Homo sapiens: one gene and its partners. The protein of the gene in region 2 interacts with the protein of the main gene of each other region in a biochemical or structural test. Each region holds a gene or a part of one and is shown on either strand. Other genes may lie near its edges.

Region 1 (7,024 bases), on a different chromosome or scaffold from region 2:
CATTGTTCAAGGGTCAACCGCACAAAGCAATAATCACTGTCTTCTGTGGTTCAGGTTTACCTCCTAAGCATGGCTGTCGTCTTCTGTGTTTGTGTGTGTACACACAATGCACAGGCGTAGCTGTGCGTGTGAGAGCATGGCATCACAGTAACTACGTGTACCTGCTTTTTCCACCAGTGCTTATATCACCATGCCCCTAACTTGGTGATTTTTGATGGCGGCCACAGCTGTGCGCAGTTTCATCCTATGGCTACTTGGTAGTTTATTTCACCTGTCACATCTTAACAATTTTGGTTTCTTTCCCACACAGATCCTGAAATTCCTGTTCAGGTCACTCAGGATATTGAGCCTCATTTGGGAGCCTTGTTCACCCAAATGTTAGAGGTTGGGACGACAGAGGACTTGAGGCTGGTGATGCAGTGTATTCTCCAGGGACTGGATGTCAGTAACATGTGGAAAGCAGATGTGCAGGTGGGTGCCTTCTCCCTCCTTGTGTGGCAGGCTCAGAAACCACGTCGGCTCAAATGGGAAAACTGATTTGAGATGTGGTGTCACCCTTAAAACTAAACAAGTTCTAACTGGTAGAGACTCTAGGCAAAGGGGGAGGCTGTGAGAGGGAGCCCTGGCCTGTGGGACAGCCCAGGCTGCGGCATAGGGAGGCCTTAGTTTTCAAACGGGAAGTTTTTCAAATAACAAATGTGTTGTCTTATTACGTTAAATACTAAGTGTTACACATTCACAAAACTGATCCATAAAAAAGTTAAATTCTGCTCATTCTTTGCTGAAGACCTCTCACACCATACTTCTTGAAACATGTGGCCTGATTGGGCCATACTGCCTTCATGCCAGCATTTGAGAAGCACCTAGGTTAGCCTACCCCCTTCAGTTCTGACAGAAGTCGCTAATACAGCCTGCATGGTGTTGCATTTGCTGAGTGCCTTTGCACAGAGCTCACATGCTGGGATTTGTTTCTCTGAATGCCTGTGGGCACTGGACTGGTCAGACATCTCTTACGCAAGGAAGAAGGCCACAGGCCACAGAGCCAATGGTTGGTGGGGCAGAGAGTCCAGCCAAGGTCTCTGGTCTAGGCATATTCTGCCTCATGAATGGCTTATTGACTCCTGGTCATATACAGCACACTGGTATTGGGTACTGATTTGGGCAGGAGAGGAAACAAACCTAAATTTCTGTTTGGACCAGTTGGTCAGGAGACTTCCCGGAGGAAGTGAAACTCCAGCTGTGCACTGAAGAATGCAGGGGACTTGATTGGGGAGCAGAGGTGAGGGGAAGGGAGGCGTGCACCGTGCAGGCAGCGTGTTGGGCTGCCAGGAGCAGGGGATGTGCAAGAGTGAGAAGATGGACAGGGAGAAGTGGTGCCAGGGGGGCAGGCCCTGGTGGGGAGATAGCCTGTAGGTGGGCAGGAGAGTGGGAGTGGAGATGGGGCTTTGGGGTGTGCCTAGTCAGAGGGAGCAGGGAAGGGAAGAGAGTGAAAGGCAGAAGCCAGGACTTTGGCTAGGGTTGTGGGGTGGGCTGCACAGCATTCGGGGAGAAAGGGACGGTGTGAGGCTGAAATAGGAACTCACTGACAATGTGAAATGCCTGGCACTGGGTCTGTTTGTTCATATAGGCACCCCGTAAAGGTAGGGCTCTGCCCACATCTCATGGTTTAAAACCTTATTTTTCAAAGGGGAAGTTTTTCAAATTACAAATGTGTGGTCTTATTATGTAAAATACTAAGTATTACATATTCACAATACTGATATGTATAAAAGTTAAATTCTGGCCGGGTGCGGTGGCTCATGCCTGTAATCCCAGCACTTTGGGAGGCCAAGGTGGGTGGATTATATGAGGTCAGGAGTTCGAAACCACCTGGCCAACATAGTGAAACCCCGTCCCTGCTAAAAATACAAAAATTAGCTGGGCCTGGTGGTGGGTGGCTGTAATCCCAGCCACCTGGGAGGCTGAGGCAGGAGAATCGCTTGAGCCCAGGAGGTGGAGGTTGCAGTGAGCAGAGATCATGCCATTGCACTCCAAGCCTGGGTGACAGAGCGAGACTCGGTCTCGAAAAAAAAAAAAAAGTTAAATTCTGCTCACTCTGTGCTTAAGACCTCTCCCACCATATATTTTGAAACATGTGACCCGATTGGGTCATATTGCCCTCATGTCAGCATGTAGCACCCGTGACCACAGCACCTAATCCGATTGTTTTCACATTTTCCTCCAGCCCCTCCTATCTGTAAGCGTGCATCGTTGCTCAGTGAAGTAACAGCCAGTGTCCTCTGCGTGGACAGAGCCTTGACAAGACGGGCTCTCTGTAATTAGGTCACAGTGTGTGACCCTTTTGCAATTCACTGTCCTGGCCGATTTACGTGCTTGATTTAGTGAAATGCTGCTGAAAGACCCTGACTTTGCCCCAGCTCTGCTCATCTTCTTCACTTCCTTCCTGTCTGCATGCTGATGTGAAGGGTGTCCCTCCCAGGACTTAACCCCAAGCAGGCCTTGTCCACCTCCCCTGACACCAGGGCTCTCAATCCACTCCAACGCCACAGCCCCAGAGAGCAGTCTTCTTCCCCAGGCGGAGTTCTTAAGGGAGAACACGCTATCTCTGCCGCTAAGTTTTTTCTCTCTTGCCCCAGGCTGTTGTGTCAGCTGTTACACTGCTGAGGCTGCTACTGAACTGCCCACTCAGTGGAGAGAAAGCAAGTCTGTTGTGGCGTGCGTGTCCCCAGATAGTCACAGCTTTAACAGTGAGTACCCTCTGGAGATGTGTCCTCTAGCTCCTCCCCTCCCTCTTCCTGTAAAGACAGAAGTCAGCCTTTTGGGGTCTGCTGCCCTGTAGCTTTATGCAGAACGTGTGTGTGGGCTACTTCCAAAGGGCGGTGGTGAGCAGGATGCCGAGCTTGTGTGTCCTGCCTGAGCACATTGGTATCAACGGTTGGAGCAGTGGAAGGGAAGTGCTAACAAGGGACATTTAGTAGCACTGGGAAGCATCAGACAGGCAGTAAGAAGAGGGATGTAGTGATAAAGGGAGGCTATCGTGGAGGCCTGCTTAATTTTTAAAATTTTATGTTTTATTATTTTTTTAGAAATGGAGTCTCACTGTGTGGTCCAGGCTAAGGTGAAGTGGCTATTTGCAGTTGCAAATGTAGTGTTCTGCAGCCTCAAACTCCTGGCCTCAAGTGATCCTTCTGCCTTAGCCTCCCAAGTCACCAGGATTATAGGTGCATGCCACTGCAGCCAGCTTGTAGATGCCTATTTAATCAGATGATAAAAGAAGGAATTCTGGGGCTTTCTTTGTCCCCACAAAATGTTGTGGTTAGTTTAATGCACTCATTTATTTGTAGGAGTTGTATGTGTGTGTGTGTTTAAGGCCTATGATACAGTGAGAATAAAATGCTTTACAGGATGGGATAGTAATGTTGCAGATAGGAGTTTATTTTGTTACAGTCTTACTCAAATGTTAAAATTTGTGTCCAGTTGTTGCTAGGCTGTTTGTTTCACTAGAACAGTCTGGTTCAGATTGGGACTGCCTCCTGCCCTCTAAAAACCCTGACCTGGGTGTTCTTACACTTAGGTGCGAAGGAGCAGTATCTATTTTACCATCATACTCTGCCCTAATTCTAGCTGTTGCTACCTGAGACAATTGCCCTGGGTTAGCATGTTCCTGGGGCAAAAGGGTCTAAAAAACAGACTTAATATTCTCTCTTGTTTCCAATTTGGCTGCTTTGTCATTTTCCTGAGCATCCGTGTTGGTGGATGGCAGGGGTCATCGTCACCGAGCATGTGTGGTGAGCATCAGGAGAGGCACGTGACCCATGCTGACGGGCAGGGACAGTGTTGATGATGCGTGTGGTAGGCCCTCACTGATAAGAACACTGGGCTAGAATCCACTTACGTCCACCCAGAGGGTGTAGCAGGGGTCCGCACAGCCAGAATACCCAGCAGAACAGTGAGCATTGTGAGAGACAGGACCCAAAAGGCCTCACCAGGGCTGCTGTGTATCTGAGAAGGAGGGTCACAGGTGAGCTGTCCCAGGTTACTTAGGTAAGACTTTGAGCTGTCCTTCCTCTTGGGTCTGTTCTCTTTATATTCTAGATCATGAATTGAATATCTTTCACTAGAGCTGATCTGTAAGAAGTTTAGCAAATAGTATTTAACGGCCCACGGACCACATCAATTCATTTTGGAGCACAGACATTTCTACCTCAGTCACTCAGAGCTGCAGTGTTTGTGTTATTTCCTTGGGGAATTACTTTCATTTTTCCTTTATTTTATTTTGCCCTTTAGCTCTTAAACCGAGAAGCTTCTCAGGAGCAGCCTGTGTCCCTCACAGTGGTCGGGCCTGTCTTAGATGTCCTGGCTGCACTGCTGCGGCAGGGGGAGGAGGCCATCGGCAACCCCCACCACGTCAGCCTGGCCTTCAGCATCCTTCTCACTGTCCCTTTGGACCATCTGAAGCCGCTGGAGTATGGAAGCGTCTTCCCGAGGCTGCACAACGTGCTCTTCTCAATCCTGCAGTGTCACCCTAAGGTGAGAAGGAGGGTGAGAGTGGCAGGCAGCTTTTCCTCTGCGAGCAGGGTACTTGAAGTCTGTAGAAAAGTGGCAGCAAAACTTTACTGTTGCAGGATAATAATACAAATAACGATTTGCTAGGCAAACTTTCTGTTCTAGTAAATTTCAGAGCCAGGTGGTTTCTCAAGCATAAAAATGCTCGACCTTCATACTGGGTTTGTGAGCGAGTTTTTCTTCATTGGATCTGGTGCTATGAATAGTGTTTGTATACTACAGGTTGAACACTTCTAATCCAAAATGCTCCAAAGCTCGAAACTTTTAGAGTGCTGACATCATGCTACCAGTGGAAAATCCCACTCCTGACCTCATGTGACTGGTCGCAGTCAAAACACAGTCAAAACTTTGTTTCATGCAAAAAATTATTTAAAATTATTGCATAAAGTTACCTTCAGCTATGTGTATAAACTATATAAAGTGAAACATAAATGAACTTTTAAATTATATTTAGATGGGTCCCATCTCCAAGATATCTCATTGTATATATGCAAATATTCCGAAATCTGAAATCTGAAACACTTCTGGTCCCAAAGCTTTAGGATAAGGCATACACAATCTATACTATTTAAGGAAGCTCATTAAAAATTACTCTGTTTTTGCTCACCACGTCTTTAAATAAGCCACTCGCATAGATCCCTTGCTGGGCTTATAATTCAAATGGATATAGGGAATGAAGCATCCTGAGTTCCAGTTTTATAGTATGCTCCTTTTTAAGTTAAACTGAAACTAGGGATAAATGTCCCACAGAAAAAATTACAGTTCAGTTAACATTTATTGAACATTTGATGTGTTCCACCCCTATAGCAAGCCTGTGAAGGAGGCAGTAATCCCATTTTATTGATGAGTAAACTGAGGCTCAGTGCCGCCAAATAATTTGACCAGTGTCACTTAGCTGAGTCTAAACCTTAGACTCAAGACTTGTTATCTTTGACCAGTGTTCTTTTCATGGTGCCACCACTGTATGTGTGGCTGACTATGTATGTAGGAACTCATAGATACGACGGTTAATGCATCGCTTAATGACAGAGACTTGTTCTGAGAAATGTGTCGTTAGGCATTTTTGTTGTGCAAACACCATAGATCGTATAATACTTTCACAAACCCAGATGGTACAGAGTACTGCACACCTAGGCTATGGGGTATAGCCTGTTGCTTCTGGGCTAGAAACCTACAAACCTGTACAACATGTGACTAATGAATCCTGTAGACAGTTGTAACACAATGGTAAGTATTTGTGCATTTAAACAGAGAAAAGTTCCATTAAAAATACAATCTTATAATCTTATAGGACCACTGTTGTTTATACAGTATGCCTTTGACCAGAGTATTGTTTTGTAGTGCATGGCTGTGTGTCATATATTCATGCACATTCAGATACTTTTAAGTGTTTTGATGTCCTAAGGATAGAGACCTGCCAGCAATGCAGTTTTTAAGAAAAATATTCTCTGGTAAGCTAAACACTCATGACATTGGTTCTAACTCTAAAGCCTTCCCCTGTTAACAATTGCCTTTGACCCTATTTATCTTGTCAGCATCTTTGTTTTAAAATCTCTCTGCTGATGTTAGATTTGTATGTAACTGTACAATATAAATGCAATGCACATAAATTACAAACTGAAATTACAGGTGCAGGATTTCATGAAGTTGATGAAAGTAATACTAGAAAGCAGCTTGATTCTTCTGCAAAACCATTAGCAAATGACCATTTAGTGGAATTAGATCATTTAACGAATGGAGAAAATTGACAAGGATAATGACATGGTATTACAGTAAAGAATGATGTGAATTAATCATAGCTCACTCTCATCTGTTGGGGTTGTGTAGGGAATCTGATGGATGATCACAGCATCAACAGTGTGCATGGTAGGCCCACACTGATGTAAACACGCAGCCAGAATCCTCTTAGGTGCATCTAAAGGGTATGGTAAGAAGTCAGCACAGCCAGCATACCCAGCAGAATGATCAGCAGCTAGTGCTGTTCCAAGCACTTTACATGGCTTAGCTTGTTCAATCCTCATGACAACCTATCATCCTCATTTTGCAGATGAGGAAACTGAGGTGCACACATACAAAGAAAAGCTAGATGATTTGTTCAAGATCATAAGGAGCCAGAGTGTGAACCCAGATAGTTCCAAAAGGATTTGTGTGCTTTTCATCAGTATGATAGCAAAGGATTAAGAGAGGGTCCTTGGGGAACTGGGTGAAACGCTGGAATACTTTTGCAAAAACGACTTCTTTCTGAATATGCTGCAAAAAGTCAGTAATTTGACATGACGAATGTGGTATTATGCTATCAAAAATTTTGTTGGACAGATTATGCCAAAGAGAATAATCCCGACACTTGACTTACTCTCTGTTCACTCTCACACGTGATGCAGCACTGTCCAGCAGTGGTCAGCAGTGGTGGGTGTGTGCTGTGTCTCCATCGTCCAGTATGGTCACCACTGGCCACAGC
Region 2 (7,024 bases):
TCTTTTTGAATATTTTCCTATTGTTTGTCTTAATAGTGTTTGTTGCTGAGTCATATCAGTTTCATCATGCTGCCTATTAGGCCATAAGAATTTCCTTTTGGTTAAATAACTCAGGTTAGTGAAGTACTTCTTAAATTTTACTTAAAATTGACATGGCTTTAAAATACTGGTTTTACAAGATATATTTAAATAATATATAGATGGTAGCAGTGTTATGTTTTGGAATTAGAAATTTTACATTGCTTATAGCATCTCTAGATTTTTGACTTGGGACCAAATGAATTGGTTGGTTAGAGTCTGCTTGCCTTAGAGAAGAGTACAGTATGGTACTTAAAAACACCTCTAACTTTTGTTTTTCTAACACCCAGATTCTGGAGACTTTGGTTGCAGCTAGACCTTAATAAACCAGTACAATTACATTACATACTATAAAATATTTAAAAACCCCAAGATCATCAGAAGTCATAAAATTTAGGGTTAGTGGCAAGATCTGAGAGATCATCTAGATAGTTAGAGCTCTTCATTTTCCTTATGTGGAAACTGGTTTAGTGAGATTAGTTACAGCTTGCTTATAGCCTCATAGGTAGTTTCAATGGCAGAATTAGAAAGGAGAATCTAGGTCTAACTTCTCATACTGTGTTCCTTATATTTCACTACACAGGTGTAAGTGCAGCTACTGAAAATAGAATTTAAATATTTCTATTTAAAATACAGAATGATTCAGAGTAACTTTAAAATTTTTATACCTAGATTTTGATTTTTCCCTCTTAAAGAGCTCTACAACATCAAAGGCAGTCAAACAGAGACATCATTGGGTTTATAAATCTCGGCTCAGGTTATCTGTGAATCTTGGGTAGTTTATATCTCTCATCAACTCTCCTTTAGATTCTACCTTTTTGCCCATTCAAATATATCTTCTACCTCTGATATATGAAATAAAGGGAGGCATTTTGAACTTACATGACTTTTTTTTTTTCTTTTGGAGAAAAAGAAAATACAAGGAACATGGTAGCGGGGAAATGGATTTCTCCATTTATAGCATGATTTTTGCAAACGCAGTTAAATGCAAGTTCTCTGAGGTTCAGGGACTACCTTTGTAATATCCATCTTAAGAGGAGTGCCTGTCTAAATAGCATGTCAAGTCATATACTACTCTGGAATTTAATTAATTGATTGGTCAATTTTTTTTCTTTAAAAATATATTTTTGTGTGTGCGTGTGAACCAGGCACCCCCTCTGCCCCCAAATAGGTTTACAGTGACTCTTGATTATTTTTTAAATAACCTTGTTATTTTGGCATAATTTTAGATTTACAGAAAAGTTGGCAAAGTACTATAGACAGTTCTTGTTTTCCTCTCACCCATTTTCCCCTGTTGTTAGCATCTTATGTTACCATAGTATATTTGTCAAAACTAAGAAACTGACATTGGTATATTACTGTGAACTCGTCTCCAGACTATTTGGATTTCACCAGTTCTTCTGTTATCTTCTTTCTGTTCCAGGTGCCACATGCCTCCCCTGGTCTGTGACAGTTTCTTGGGCTTTCCTTGTTTTTTATGAGCTTGAGTCTTGAGTAAGATTGTCCAGGTATCCTGTAGACTGTCCCCCAATTTGGATTTGTCCGGTGCTTTTCACGTGATTAGACTGGGGTTTTGGGTTTTAAGTGCCCGTTTTGTCACATCGTATCAGGGATTGCACGTATGTGATAACCACATGACATCACTGGTGGTGTTTGGTTTAAGATAGTGTTTGTCAGGTTTCTCCACTGTCAACAGCGCTACTATTTTTCCGTTCCCATACACTGTTCATGGAAAACAGCTCACTAAGTCCAGCCTACCCTCAAGGGTGAAGGACAGGGCAGGACTTAAGCGCCACATTCTGGAGGGAAATCTACATTTATTAAATGGCATTCTTCTGTAACGATTTATCCATTCCCCGTTTGTTTGGTTTGTTTGTTTGTTTGTTTGTGTCCGTATGGACCATGGGCATTTACTTTATACTTTGGGTTGTAAGCTAATACTGCAGTATTTACTTTTTTGGCTTAAATTGTTTCATATTTGGCCACTGGGAGTTCTGTCAGCTTGGCCACTATGTCCCATTGTTTTTTGAGCACTTTGTTGCTTTCTGGTACTATAACATGCTCTAGGCTCATCTTGCATTTTCCCTGCCCCAGTCCTAGAATTATCCAGTCTCCAAGGAGCCCTGGTTCTTGTTATTGGAGAATGGTATATAGAAATTAAGATCTGGGCACTGAGTGTGCTCACTGGTACTGGGTATCACTGCTTCTTGGCCCTCTCACCGATAAAAGTGGGTAACATTTTATGTATGCTAACCCATGTGTATGCACATATTTATAACTTTTTCTGTCTAATCATTTGTGTTAAGATAAACATGAATTCATACAGATGTCTCTGACTTGAATCTAGTAGGACAGCATTCAATTTTGGCTTCCTTTCTGACATACCTGTATCTTTTCTCTCTCAGAGTGAGAAACCTGGTTTTTATCATCCATTTACTTATCTGTTCAGCCCCAGTATATGTTAAAGCAGTTTCAAAATTTTGAACCTGTACTGCTGTGAAAAGTAAATTTACCAGCAAGAGTACAGTTTTTATGTATTTGGTAGCTCCTTTTTATCTCTAGCCTTCTAGATTTAGTTTTTGCACATTAGATGCCCTTTCTCTCCTGCTCTGTTGCAGGTACTTGTGATTCTGAGGGCCTAAGCTATCCATCAGTCTTTTTGAGTTGTCACTTTCTGAGGCTACTGAGATGAATTCTGTCATGGAGAAACACAGAAGAATAATTACCCAGCGAGCCACAAGGTTTCTAAGATGAACTTTCTGGTGTAGGATGTGTGATTTTTAATTTTTTTATGCCAAATATACAGCTTCTATATTCACAGTAATACTTTACAAATCACCCTATATTGTGTGTCCTTTGTGTGCTAACTGAACATGAGATAGCCCAGCAATCCTAAAGGGACACTAGGTAGTGCCTTCCACATAGTAACCAGAGTCCCTTTGCCTTGGTTTCTGAATATTCCTCAGCAGTCTGCTAAAACGTACTTTTACCCACTCTTAGGTTTATTTTGTCAGTCAGTGTTTATATCTTTTTTTTTTTTTTTTTGAGACAGAGTCTCGCTCTGTTGCCCAGGTTGGAGTGCAATGGCGTGATCTTGGCTCACTGCAACCTCTGCCTCCGGGGTTCAAGCGATTGTCCTGCCTCAGCCTCCCAAGTAGCTGGGATTACAGGCGCCCACCACTACAACCTGCTAATTTTTTTTGTATTTTTAGTAGAGACGGGGTTTCGCCATGTTAGTCAGGCTGGTCTCAAACTCCTGACCTCAGGTGATCCACCTGCCCCGGCCTCCCAAAGTGTTGGGATTACAGGCGTAAGCCACCACACCCACCCAGTGTTCTTATCTTTTTAAGTTCTTTATTTAATTTATACTTTTGGAAGTAAAGGCTTTGTAAGGGAGCCAGACTTGACTTTTACCAAAACCACATCTTAACATTTTTTTGGCTAAGTACAGAAAAATTATATGTATATTTACAGAACTTACATTTGTGGAATATGTCTTTTATTCTTTTATCAGCCAAAACTATCCTGAGGTCTGTGTTTTGTATTTGAGGAATTTTGGGTTTTAATTTCTTAAAATCTCTTGAATTCTAGTGAGTTAGAGATTCCATAGGGTTGTACTGTTTTCCAGTCTAGGAAATGATTTAAAATAGCTGCCTGGTGCTAATGTTGGAATGTTCCTAGAAAGTAAATATGTTTCCTTGCATCTTAAGTCTAGAGCATGTTTGGAAAGGATTCAAGAATTAGAGGACTTGCTTGCTAAAGAAAAAGACAACTCTCGTCGCATGCTGACAGACAAAGAGAGAGAGATGGCGGAAATAAGGGATCAAATGCAGCAACAGCTGAATGACTATGAACAGCTTCTTGATGTAAAGTTAGCCCTGGACATGGAAATCAGTGCTTACAGGAAACTCTTAGAAGGCGAAGAAGAGAGGTAAGGAACTTAAGGGTCACCCTACCTTATGGTCCACTTTTTGCCTCTCACCCTTTTTATTGAAATAAAAATAAATAGCATTTTAAAAAGAACTTTATTTTCTTGGTCATTTCTTTGAACACCTAGGTATAGAAGTAGTAATAGATCATATTTCTACCTCATCGCAGAAAATGTTGCTCAAGTACTCTTAGTTTATTTATTATTATTACTTTAAATGCTGAACTGCATCAGGATGGATTAGTTCCTTTGAGATTTTAAGTGTTTTGGTGATTTAATATATTGTAAAATGCCAAACTGGCTGAAAGAGACTTTACATATTATTTATTTATTTATTTATTTATTTATTTATTTATTTATTTATTTTTGAGACAGAGTCTCAGCCTGTTGCCCAGGCTAGAGTGCAGTGGTGTGATTCTCGGCTCACTGCAACCTTCACCTCCTGGTTTCAAGCGATTTGCCTACCTCAGCCTCCTGAGTAACTGGGATTACAGGCGTGTGTCACCACACCCGGCTAATTTTGTTTTTAGTAGAGAAGAGGTTTCACCATGTTGGCCAGGCTGGTCTCAAACTCCTGACTGCAAGTGACCCACCCGCCTCAGCCTCCCAAAGTGCTAGGATTACAGGTGTGAGCCACCACGCCCGGCTGGCTTTATATATATTTTAAATCTGGTCAATGTATAAATATTTTTGACACCTGTTCTCAGAAAAGAGTTCCAAAAGGGCCAGGTGCATTGCCTCATGCCTGTAATCCCGGCACTTTGGGAGGCCAAGGCAGGCGGATCACATGAGGTCAGGAGTTCAAGACCAGCCTGGTCAACATGGTGAAACTCCGTCTCTAATGAAAATACAAAAATTAGCTGGGCATGGTGGCAGGCACCTGTAATCCCAGCTACTTGGGAGGCTGAGACAGAATTGCTTGAACCTGGGAGGTGGAGTTTGCAGTGAGCCAAGATTGTGCCATTGCACTCCAGCCTGGGTGACAAGAGTGAAACTCTGTCTCACAAAAAAAAGAAAAAGAAAAAAAAAGTTCCAAAAGGAAAGTGGCTGATTTAGGATAAAAAGCCAGATAATTTTAATATTATATCCGTTGTGATCATAAGAAAGTACAGGTACGAAAAGAGAAAAAAGTACACCAACTATAACAGTGGCTGTGGTGGGTGGTGGTAGATCAGATGACTTTCTACCCATTTACCAGACTTCTTGCATTATGGTTATATTACTTCCATCCCTAGAGAAAACATTCAGATTGTTATTTTTTAAAAAAGAAAATTGACGATGGGCACCTTATGAAGAAGTTTACATTAGTTAAGGTAAACTTTGGCTTTGGCTAACAGATTGTAAGTAATATTTTGCTTTAGAAATGCATGGGTGGGATATTCTTCTTCTTATTATTATTATTTTGAGACAGGTTTTCACTCTGTCACCCAGGCTAGAGTGCAGTGGTGTGATCTCAGCTCACTGCAGCCTCTGCCTCCCGGGTTCAAGCCATTCTCCTGCCTCAGCCTCCTGAGTAGCTAGTATTACAGGCGCCCACCACCACGCCTGGCTAATTTTTGTATTTTTAGTAGAGACGGGGTTTCACCATGTTGGTCAGGCTGATCTTGAACTCCTGACCTCAAGCAATCCACCTGCCTTGGCCTCCCAAAGTGCTGTTGGGTTACAGACATGAGCCTCTGTGCCCAGCCCTTGTTTTTTTGTTTTTTTTTTTTTTAAGGCGAGAAGGGCATATGTGTTTTAAAAATGAATTGTTTTATTTTTCCCATATAGGTTGAAGCTGTCTCCAAGCCCTTCTTCCCGTGTGACAGTATCCCGAGCATCCTCAAGTCGTAGTGTACGTACAACTAGAGGAAAGCGGAAGAGGGTTGATGTGGAAGAATCAGAGGCGAGTAGTAGTGTTAGCATCTCTCATTCCGCCTCAGCCACTGGAAATGTTTGCATCGAAGAAATTGATGTTGATGGGAAATTTATCCGCTTGAAGAACACTTCTGAACAGGTAATAAAATAGACCCTTTTTTTTCTAGCAAGGCTTTGTGGATTGCTAGATTCTCTTGCAATTGTCATAGCTCCTTAGTTTTTGTTTGGATTCATTACGTCTTCATGGAATAAGGGTTTATGTCCTTTTTACTTAAATTCATAAAATAAAATAAAAATTAAAATAGGAGGAGGAAGAGTTAGGTACCCTTAGTAGTTTAAAGATTTGCTTCATTAACCCTTCTTTAGAGGGCCAGGGCTTTTTTGAAAAGCATGTTCCTTTTATCACAGTGGTTCTGAGGATGAGTTATTATTATTCTCTGCCCTAGCCAAATTTGTGAAGAAGTTGGAGCAATTGGATGAAAATGGTGGATATTCTTTCGGTCATTAACTTAATAAAAAGCTTACTGAAAGAAGGAGATAAGAGCCTGGACTCAGATATTAAGGGAATATTTTTCCCTGCAAATAAATGAATGAACAAATGCTAATACTTTACATGAAAAATAGCATGAAGCCTTATTTTGAAATATGTTTAAAAGTAAACATGAAGTATTCATAGCAGAGATTTCTGAAATTTAGGGCTGGGGCTTTCGGGAGCTCTGTAGTGTGGGCCTTCCCTAGCTCTGCATCAAGGAGCTGGAGGCCATGATGGGTTGTGAGATGATACTAGAGGAAGGCATGGTCTGGGAGCGTGCAGGCGGCAGTGGGATGGATGTCACATCTTGAAACATATGTTCAGGGCCTGCTAAAAGTAGTTTTGAAAATTAGTCTTTTCTCACCACAGTTATTAAAACTATCTTGCATGTGGATGAATATGTAATTTGGATGAGTGAAGGAGCACTAATGAGCACCAACAGTTTTAATGCTAAAGAGAATAGGCTCTAAGGTCTCTTTGTAGCCTTTTTTTTTTTTTTGAGTCTTGCTCTGTTGCCCAGGTCGGAGTGCAGTGGCATGATCTTGGCTCCTCCACCTCTTGGGTTCAAGAGATTCTCCTGCCTCAGCCTCCTGAGTAGCTGGGATTACAGGTGCACGCAAGCACGCCTG
Region 3 (7,024 bases), on a different chromosome or scaffold from region 2:
GGTTGCTGGGCTGCTTCCGGGCAGTGCTGAGTGTGGAGCTGGACCCTGTGGTGAGCTGGGGTCTGGGCCAGGCGGGGTGGGGGGCTTCCACAGCCTCCTGCCCCTCACACTTCTCCCTCCTCCCCCTCCACACAGGAGGGGCGGCTGTTGGACAAGGAGAGCTCCAAGTGGCGGTTGCGGGGCCAGCCCACCGTCCTCCTCACACTGGCCCACATCTTCCATCACTTTGCACCGCTTCTGGTGAGCGGCATTGGGAGGGGCATGGGAGGGGAGGAGACAGGCCATGCTAGACACGCCCGTGGTAGATGTGCCCTCACTGAGGGCTGCAGTGCTGAGGTCCCACAGCATCACCTGGCGAGGGCCCCATGTGACCAGGGCCCTCAGACCTCAGTCAGTCCCCTAGGGAAACAGGGACATTGCCAACCAAGGGCATCAGGGGATGTCCTGGAAAGAAGACTGAAGGATAATAACATCCCAGGCCAAGGAAACTGCGTGTGCCAAGCCTTAGAGGAGCCGTGGGGCAATGGCCTTCTTGTCCCTCAGTCAGACCCCGGAAGGGGTCATCTATGTTTGGTGTTGCTCGAGTGGCTCAAGGCTCTGTGCCTGAGGCTTGTGCCTTGGCCATGTGCCAGGGCAGGGGTGCCTTGACCAGAGTGGAAGGCCACCACCTCACCAGTGCCTGGCCTTGGTGCAGCGCAAGGTGTATCTGGTGGAGGCTGTGCTCATGAGCTTCTTGCTGGGCATCGTGGAGAAGGGCACACCCACACAGGCACAGTCCGTGGTGCACCAGGTCCTGGACCTCTTGTGGCTCTTCATGGAGGTGAGGCTCCTGACCTCAGGCCTCAGGCCTGGCTGTCAGTCTTCACTGGGGTCGGGAAGATACGGGGAGAATCTTGGAAAAGGCCCCAGTCATGGCTGCCTTGGCATCTCTTCCCCCAGGACTACGAGGTACAAGATTGCCTCAAGCAGTTGATGATGTCTCTGCTTCGGCTGTACCGATTCTCACCCATTGTCCCAGACCTGGGCCTACAGGTGGGAGCCCCTACCCCTGCCCTGAGCCCCCTGGGACTCGCCTGTCCACTCTGAACGCCCCCTCTCCACAGATCCATTACCTGCGGCTCACTATCGCCATCCTGAGGCATGAGAAGTCCCGCAAGTTTCTGCTTAGCAATGTCCTGTATCCTTTCCTTGCTGCCTGGCAGGCCAGACATGGGGTGCCCTCTGGACTCAGCAGAGGCCAGGAAGGGGAGTGTCATCAGGCCAGGGGTCCCCTGGGAGCATCAGGAGGACCAGAGCTGCCCAACGTGGCATTTTCTCTACAGAGCAAGGACGAGAGAGCAAAGGACTGAGCCTGGCCAGCCAGCCTAGCCAGGGGGTTCTGAATGACTGCAGACTCGGGCTACGCAGAGGTGTGGGAGGGGCCACAGGGCCTGCCCTCTTCGGCCACAGCCCAGCACTTTTGTTCATGTTCCACAGTGGGGATTCCTGCAAGATCTTTAAGGAGGCAGCTCTTCCTGCTTCCCAGAATTGTTGGGAACTGCATGAGTGAGTGAGAGCATAGCTTTGAGCCCCTGGCTGGGAAGCCTCAGCTTGTAGCCGTTTTCTTGGTCTGGGGTCTTCCAGCCTCCAGGAGGCAGACACAAAGCTGGGAGACACAGAGGTCAGAGTTGGGGCCTGAGAAAAGGCCACCAGTCCCTCTCTCCAGCTTGTCCCACAGTCATCTGTTCCTGTGACAAGCCCTTATCGTGCACCTGCTGGGTACTGGAGCTGGTGGGCTTAACCACCACAGCTTTTTGTCAGGGAGCATGCCCTGGGGGTCAGACACATAGCAGCAACATGCCCCTGTGGTGGTGGGAGAGCTGTGGTAGGCACATCCAGGGATGGGCTCCTGGGGAAGGACTCTTGAGGGTGTGCAGAGTGCCCTTTGGCAAGCAGAGCCCTGCCTTGACACCCGCCAGCTTCGACGTGCTCCGCTCCGTCGTCTTCTTTTACATCAAGAGCCCCCTGCGTGTGGAGGAGGCCGGCCTGCAGGAGCTCATTCCCACCACCTGGTGGCCCCACTGCTCCAGTAGGGAGGTGAGTGCACCCCAAGTGGGATGGGCAGAGGTCATGGCAAGGCCCCTGGCCTGGGCATCTGGCCACTGGGCATCTAGCATGAGGCCTTTTCACTGGCCCTGGTCCCTGAAGCCCTGGAGATGGAGTGTGGGTGTTCTGAGTGAAGGAGGCCTGGCTAGGTCCCAGGTGACCCTGCTGTATTCCACCTGCTACCCCTGCCTAGGGCAAAGAGAGCACGGAGATGAAGGAGGAGACCGCAGAGGAGCGGCTGCGGCGGCGAGCCTACGAACGGGGCTGTCAGCGGCTCAGGAAGCGCATCGAAGGTCAGCCCGCCTTGGGCACGGGGTAGGGTGGGAGGTGTGTGTGTGCACATGAGGGTGCTTGGAGGTGCCCATGTCTAGGTGGGACTTGGGGAACCCTGGTGGTGGAGCCCTGGCCCAAACCTGCCCCCCATCTCCTGGAGCCTGAGGGCCATGTTCCTCACCTGACCTCCAGTGGTGGAAGAACTACAGGTCCAGATCCTGAAGCTGCTGCTGGACAATAAAGATGACAATGGGGTGAGTGACTCCCAGGAGCCCTGGGTGGGGCCCTGTGGGGAGGGATGCTGCACTGGGCCTTAAGACCCAGAGGGTGGGAACTGGGTTTGGTTCCCATGGCAGGGGCTGGGGGAAGGTGCAGCACTGAGCCAGCCCAGTCTGGGCCTGCATTCTCAGCTCAGCACAGCCTCACTTTTCCCTCTCTCAAAGGGTGAAGCTTCTAGGTATATCTTCCTGACCAAGTTTCGCAAGTTTCTGCAGGAGAACGCCAGTGGCCGGGGGGTAGGTGTCCTCCAGGCCAGCCCACTGTGGATCCCCGGCTGCACTACACATGCCATGCCCTCAGCACCTGGCACTTCTCGGACTGCCTCATCCCTGCCTAGCCCCAAGCTTTTCTCTGCTGCTTTTCCCTCCCTGCTTAACCCTCGACCCTCAGGCAGGGCCTTGGATGAGGAATGGGCAAGGCACTGGACTGGCACCAATGCATGTTTCATGCCTGGTGTCCACAGAACATGCCCATGCTCTGCCCCCCTGAGTACATGGTCTGCTTCTTACACCGGCTGATCTCTGCCCTGCGCTACTATTGGGATGAATACAAGGCTTCCAATCCTCATGCTTCCTTCAGTGAGGGTGAGTGGCACCGGGGTCCCAGGTCAGTGAGGCTGGACAGAGCCAGGCGTAGGGCAGCCCCTAATGTTAGTGCAGAGTGCTGAGCTGAGGCTGTGGGCTGTGGGGAGTTGTCCCCGGCATCCTGCCTGGTTGAGTCCTACCCAGCCACAGGCGGCTTCTCCACTGGGGCAGCAGGAGCCCTGCACCGCAGGCCTGCCGATCCTGTGTTTGCTCTGATTGTCCCACGGGCTCCTACCATTGTGGGCTCTTTTCTTCCGTCCTTGCCCCCCCATTTCTCTGTGCGTCCTTTATAGGGCTGCCTTGGGTGGGTGCTGGGGGGCCCTGTGTTTGAGTCCCCAAGGGTCAGTGGGAGCCTTACCTGCCCTGGATTGGGGGATATCCCACAGGACTGGGGCTGGGCCTCTCTGCTTCTCCTGAGTGAACGGCTGCCATGAGTACCCCCATCACCCCAAGTTATGCAGCTGCTGGCTCTGACCTGAAATGGCAGGGGTGGAGAAGAGGTAGGGGAGGTCTGTTTCTTGGTCCAGGAGACAGTTTCTCTGTCTGCCTGGATGGGTGAGTGGCCAAAGCCAGAATTCCCAGGCTGTGCTAGGCCAGATTGGAGGGGAGGGCTGTGGGGAGGGTCTTCCTACTGGGCCGTGACCACTGGCCTAGCCTCCTCAATTCCTCGCAGAGGCCTACATCCCGCCCCAGGTCTTCTATAATGGCAAGGTGGACTACTTTGACCTGCAGCGCCTGGGGGGCCTCCTCTCGCACCTGCGGAAGACCCTCAAAGGTGTGTACAGGCCTGTGGGCCGGGAGCAGTTCTGGGGCCAGGTGGGGGACTGTCCCTGAGCCTGCTCTGCTGTGGATGCTGAGCCATCCTATGGCCACCAGAGGGTGCCCAAGTCTTTCCACCCACTCAGGCAGGGAGACACTGATCTGCCTGCCCTACATCTGGGCAGCTTCTCTTTCCCGCCAGCACCCACGCCATAGGGGTCGGGCGTGCCTGGCAGGGGACCAGGGATCTTGGTGAGGTGTGGATGGGGCGTGCAGGTGCTGCCGGAGCTGCCTTCAGGGATGAGCACAAGCTGCCCCGGTGCAGGGCTGAGGGCACAGCGAGAGCAAGGCCCTGAGCCGGGCACAAGGGTGGGTCTGTGCTGTCAGAACCTCTCTCTGGCTGCCGCAGTGTATACGCCGGAGTGCAGGGGCTGAGAGACAGGGAGCCCAGGTGTCCCCACACAGGAGATAAGGGCCTGCCCAGGTAGGTAGGGGAGGGCACAGGTGGAGGAGAGGAGTCAGGATGACCCCAGGCTTCCTGCCAGAGGTTGTGTGGATGGGGTGCCATCAGGGAGAGGGGCTGCAGGAGGTGGTGGAGATGAGAAATTCTGTTTGGACACAGCGCGTTTAGCGGGGAGCAAGGCCTGGGCGGGGGGCAGCGAAGGCGGGGTCAGTTGTCAGCACGGTGGTGGGGATGAGCCTGGGATGAGGCTTGGCTCCCACTGGGAGTGCCCAGAATGAAGCAGCCCTGGCATCTCCTTTTGTTTATGGAGTAGTCAGAGAGTGGGGGAGGCCCTGGAGAGCAGGAAGTCCTGGGAAACAAAGCCAGGGACCAGCAGGAAGGGCATGATGGGCTTACATCTATGTAGAATAAAGAAAGTCAATTTGAAAATAAATGAAAAAGAAGGGTGTGATGGGGAAGGCCTCCTGTTACTGAGTGGCAGCTAGACGGGGCCCTTGAGATGCAGAGTGAAGGCTGGGTGGAGGAGGCGGAGGGGCGAGGGGCAGATACGGTGCTAAACCGGGCTCTGCAAGGCCTCCTGCCCAGTGTGCTGGGCTCTCTCACCGTCCTGGGCACTTCCACTGTGGCCCCTTGCGCCACCACTGGCCTGAGAACCCTCCTGCTCTTCCTCCCAGATGACCTTGCTTCCAAAGCCAACATTGTGATCGACCCACTGGAGCTCCAGTCAACCGCCATGGATGACCTAGATGAGGATGAGGAGCCAGCCCCAGCTATGGCCCAGGTGCCGCAGTGGGGGCAGGCGGTGGGATTTGTGTTGGGCTTATCCTGTATCTTATGGGCAGGGGTCTCATCCAGGGCCACTTCCCGCTCCATGCAGGCAAAGGGTTTCTCACTGGGCTGGTGCCTTGCTGTGGGTGGAGGCATGGACCCTCCCTCACAATTCTGCAGCCCCGTGGGCCAAGGGAACCCTGAGCCAGCCCTGGTCCTGGCCGCCTTTCTTCACTGCAGCGCCCCATGCAGGCCCTGGCTGTTGGGGGGCCACTGCCCCTGCCCCGGCCCGGCTGGCTCAGTTCTCCAACTTTGGGCCGAGCCAACCGCTTCCTCAGCACAGCGGCTGTGAGCCTCATGACCCCACGGCGGCCTCTGAGCACCTCGGAGAAAGTGAAGGTCCGCACGCTGAGCGTGGAGCAGAGGACCCGTGAGGACAGTAGGTGCTTGGTGGGGTCAGGCAGGTCCCCGAAGGACCCTTCCACAGTGTACAGTCCCCGATCCGGGCAAAGCCAAAATACACCCCATGCCCTCCCAGCCCTGTGGCCTGGCAGCATCCCAGGAGTGCAGGAAGCACACTCCGAGGGCAGGAGATCAATGCCGCAGAAATAGGTCCTGGCACCGCAGGCCTTGCCCTGCACTCCACCCCTACCCCCATGCCCCCATGGGCTCCCCGCGGGTCCCTCCTTGGGCACAGGAATGGGAGAGATGATTTCCTCTCCTGCTGTGAGGCAGGCTCAGGAGAGCCGGGATGGCCCTACCCTTGACCCTTCCCTCCCCAACTCCCCAGTTGAAGGCAGCCACTGGAATGAGGGCTTGCTGCTGGGGCGGCCCCCCGAGGAGCCTGAGCAGCCCCTCACCGAGAACTCGCTGCTGGAAGTCCTGGATGGGGCGGTCATGATGTACAACCTCAGCGTACACCAGCAGCTGGGCAAGGTCGTGCACTCTTGGACCCCGCATTGGGTGGCGGGTGTTGTGCGTGTTTGGTTGTGTGTGTATTCCTGTGTGCACATGGGCCCGCAGGGCTGCCTGTTCAAGACCGTGCATGGGAGCACATGCCTCAGCGAGGCTGGTTTCTGCTCCTGCTGCCTCAGTCTGACCTGCTGACTGTTGTGGGAATGGGACCGCCCTGGGCCTAAGGTTGGGACCTTGGCAGGGCTGGGGTCCAGACTGGGTCTGAAGAAGCCTGGATGAAGTGCCCAAGGGGCACTCTGGACATGTGGTCCCATGCTGTGTAGATGGTGGGTGTCTCCGATGATGTCAATGAATACGCTATGGCTCTGAGGGACACAGAGGACAAGCTCCGCCGGTGCCCCAAGAGGGTAAGGCCCACATAGTCTTGGTGAGGGGCAGCTTGCTTACTCGTACAGGTAACCACAGATGAAGTCTGGTTCTGGGGGCTGCCCTGGCAGTTCTCATCCCCACTCTAGCCCTGGCCATAGCACGCCAGTGAGAGTGGGGCTGGCAGCAAGGCCTGGCACCCATCACCAGTGTGGCCTGTGCCTAGGTGCCCCCCACCCCCTGGGCCCAATAAGTGCTGAAGCACACCCACTCTCCTCATCAATTATTCATTGACCCTGAGTGCTTCCTCGGCCACTTGCAGAGTCAGCAGGAAGCAGGGCCTGGCTCCACTGCACCCTCCGGAGCCCTCTGCTGTAGCTGCCCTAGCCCAGGAAGGTGGGGCCCAGTGTGTCCAGGCTGAGCTTCCCTGACAGCCCCCACCCACCCCGACCTGTCAGCAGATCCCTGGGTCTGGCAGCTGGGGGAGCAGCGGTTCTGGCATCAGGTCCCTGGGTGCTCTGGCCAGCGGCTC

What was found. The genes of interacting proteins can lie anywhere in the genome.
Region 1: the proteins of LMNB1 (region 2) and URB2 form a complex in vitro, tested with the Homo sapiens proteins (one study listed by BioGRID).
Region 3: of the proteins of LMNB1 (region 2) and RNF123, one has a biochemical effect on the other in vitro, tested with the Homo sapiens proteins (one study listed by BioGRID).

Annotation. Positions count from the first base shown.
Region 1 is NC_000001.11:229,643,223-229,650,246, forward strand, and holds part of URB2 (unhealthy ribosome biogenesis protein 2 homolog), read left to right. Parts: intron 1-310; coding exon 311-471; intron 472-2,636; coding exon 2,637-2,747; intron 2,748-4,287; coding exon 4,288-4,530; intron 4,531-7,024. UniProt on the Homo sapiens protein: Essential for hematopietic stem cell development through the regulation of p53/TP53 pathway.
Region 2 is NC_000005.10:126,815,134-126,822,157, forward strand, and holds part of LMNB1 (lamin-B1), read left to right. Parts: intron 1-36; exon of another isoform or gene 37-114; intron 115-1,501; exon of another isoform or gene 1,502-3,788; coding exon 3,789-4,009; intron 4,010-5,776; coding exon 5,777-6,002; intron 6,003-7,024. UniProt on the Homo sapiens protein: Lamins are intermediate filament proteins that assemble into a filamentous meshwork, and which constitute the major components of the nuclear lamina, a fibrous layer on the nucleoplasmic side of the inner nuclear membrane.
Region 3 is NC_000003.12:49,699,533-49,706,556, forward strand, and holds part of RNF123 (E3 ubiquitin-protein ligase RNF123), read left to right. Parts: coding exon 1-50; intron 51-135; coding exon 136-240; intron 241-694; coding exon 695-820; intron 821-939; coding exon 940-1,032; intron 1,033-1,103; coding exon 1,104-1,177; intron 1,178-1,958; coding exon 1,959-2,076; intron 2,077-2,278; coding exon 2,279-2,378; intron 2,379-2,550; coding exon 2,551-2,612; intron 2,613-2,801; coding exon 2,802-2,873; intron 2,874-3,100; coding exon 3,101-3,221; intron 3,222-3,894; coding exon 3,895-3,996; intron 3,997-5,117; coding exon 5,118-5,224; intron 5,225-5,451; coding exon 5,452-5,650; exon of another isoform or gene 5,651-5,654; intron 5,655-6,001; coding exon 6,002-6,147; intron 6,148-6,449; coding exon 6,450-6,533; intron 6,534-7,024. UniProt on the Homo sapiens protein: Catalytic subunit of the KPC complex that acts as E3 ubiquitin-protein ligase. Promotes the ubiquitination and proteasome-mediated degradation of CDKN1B which is the cyclin-dependent kinase inhibitor at the G0-G1 transition of the cell cycle.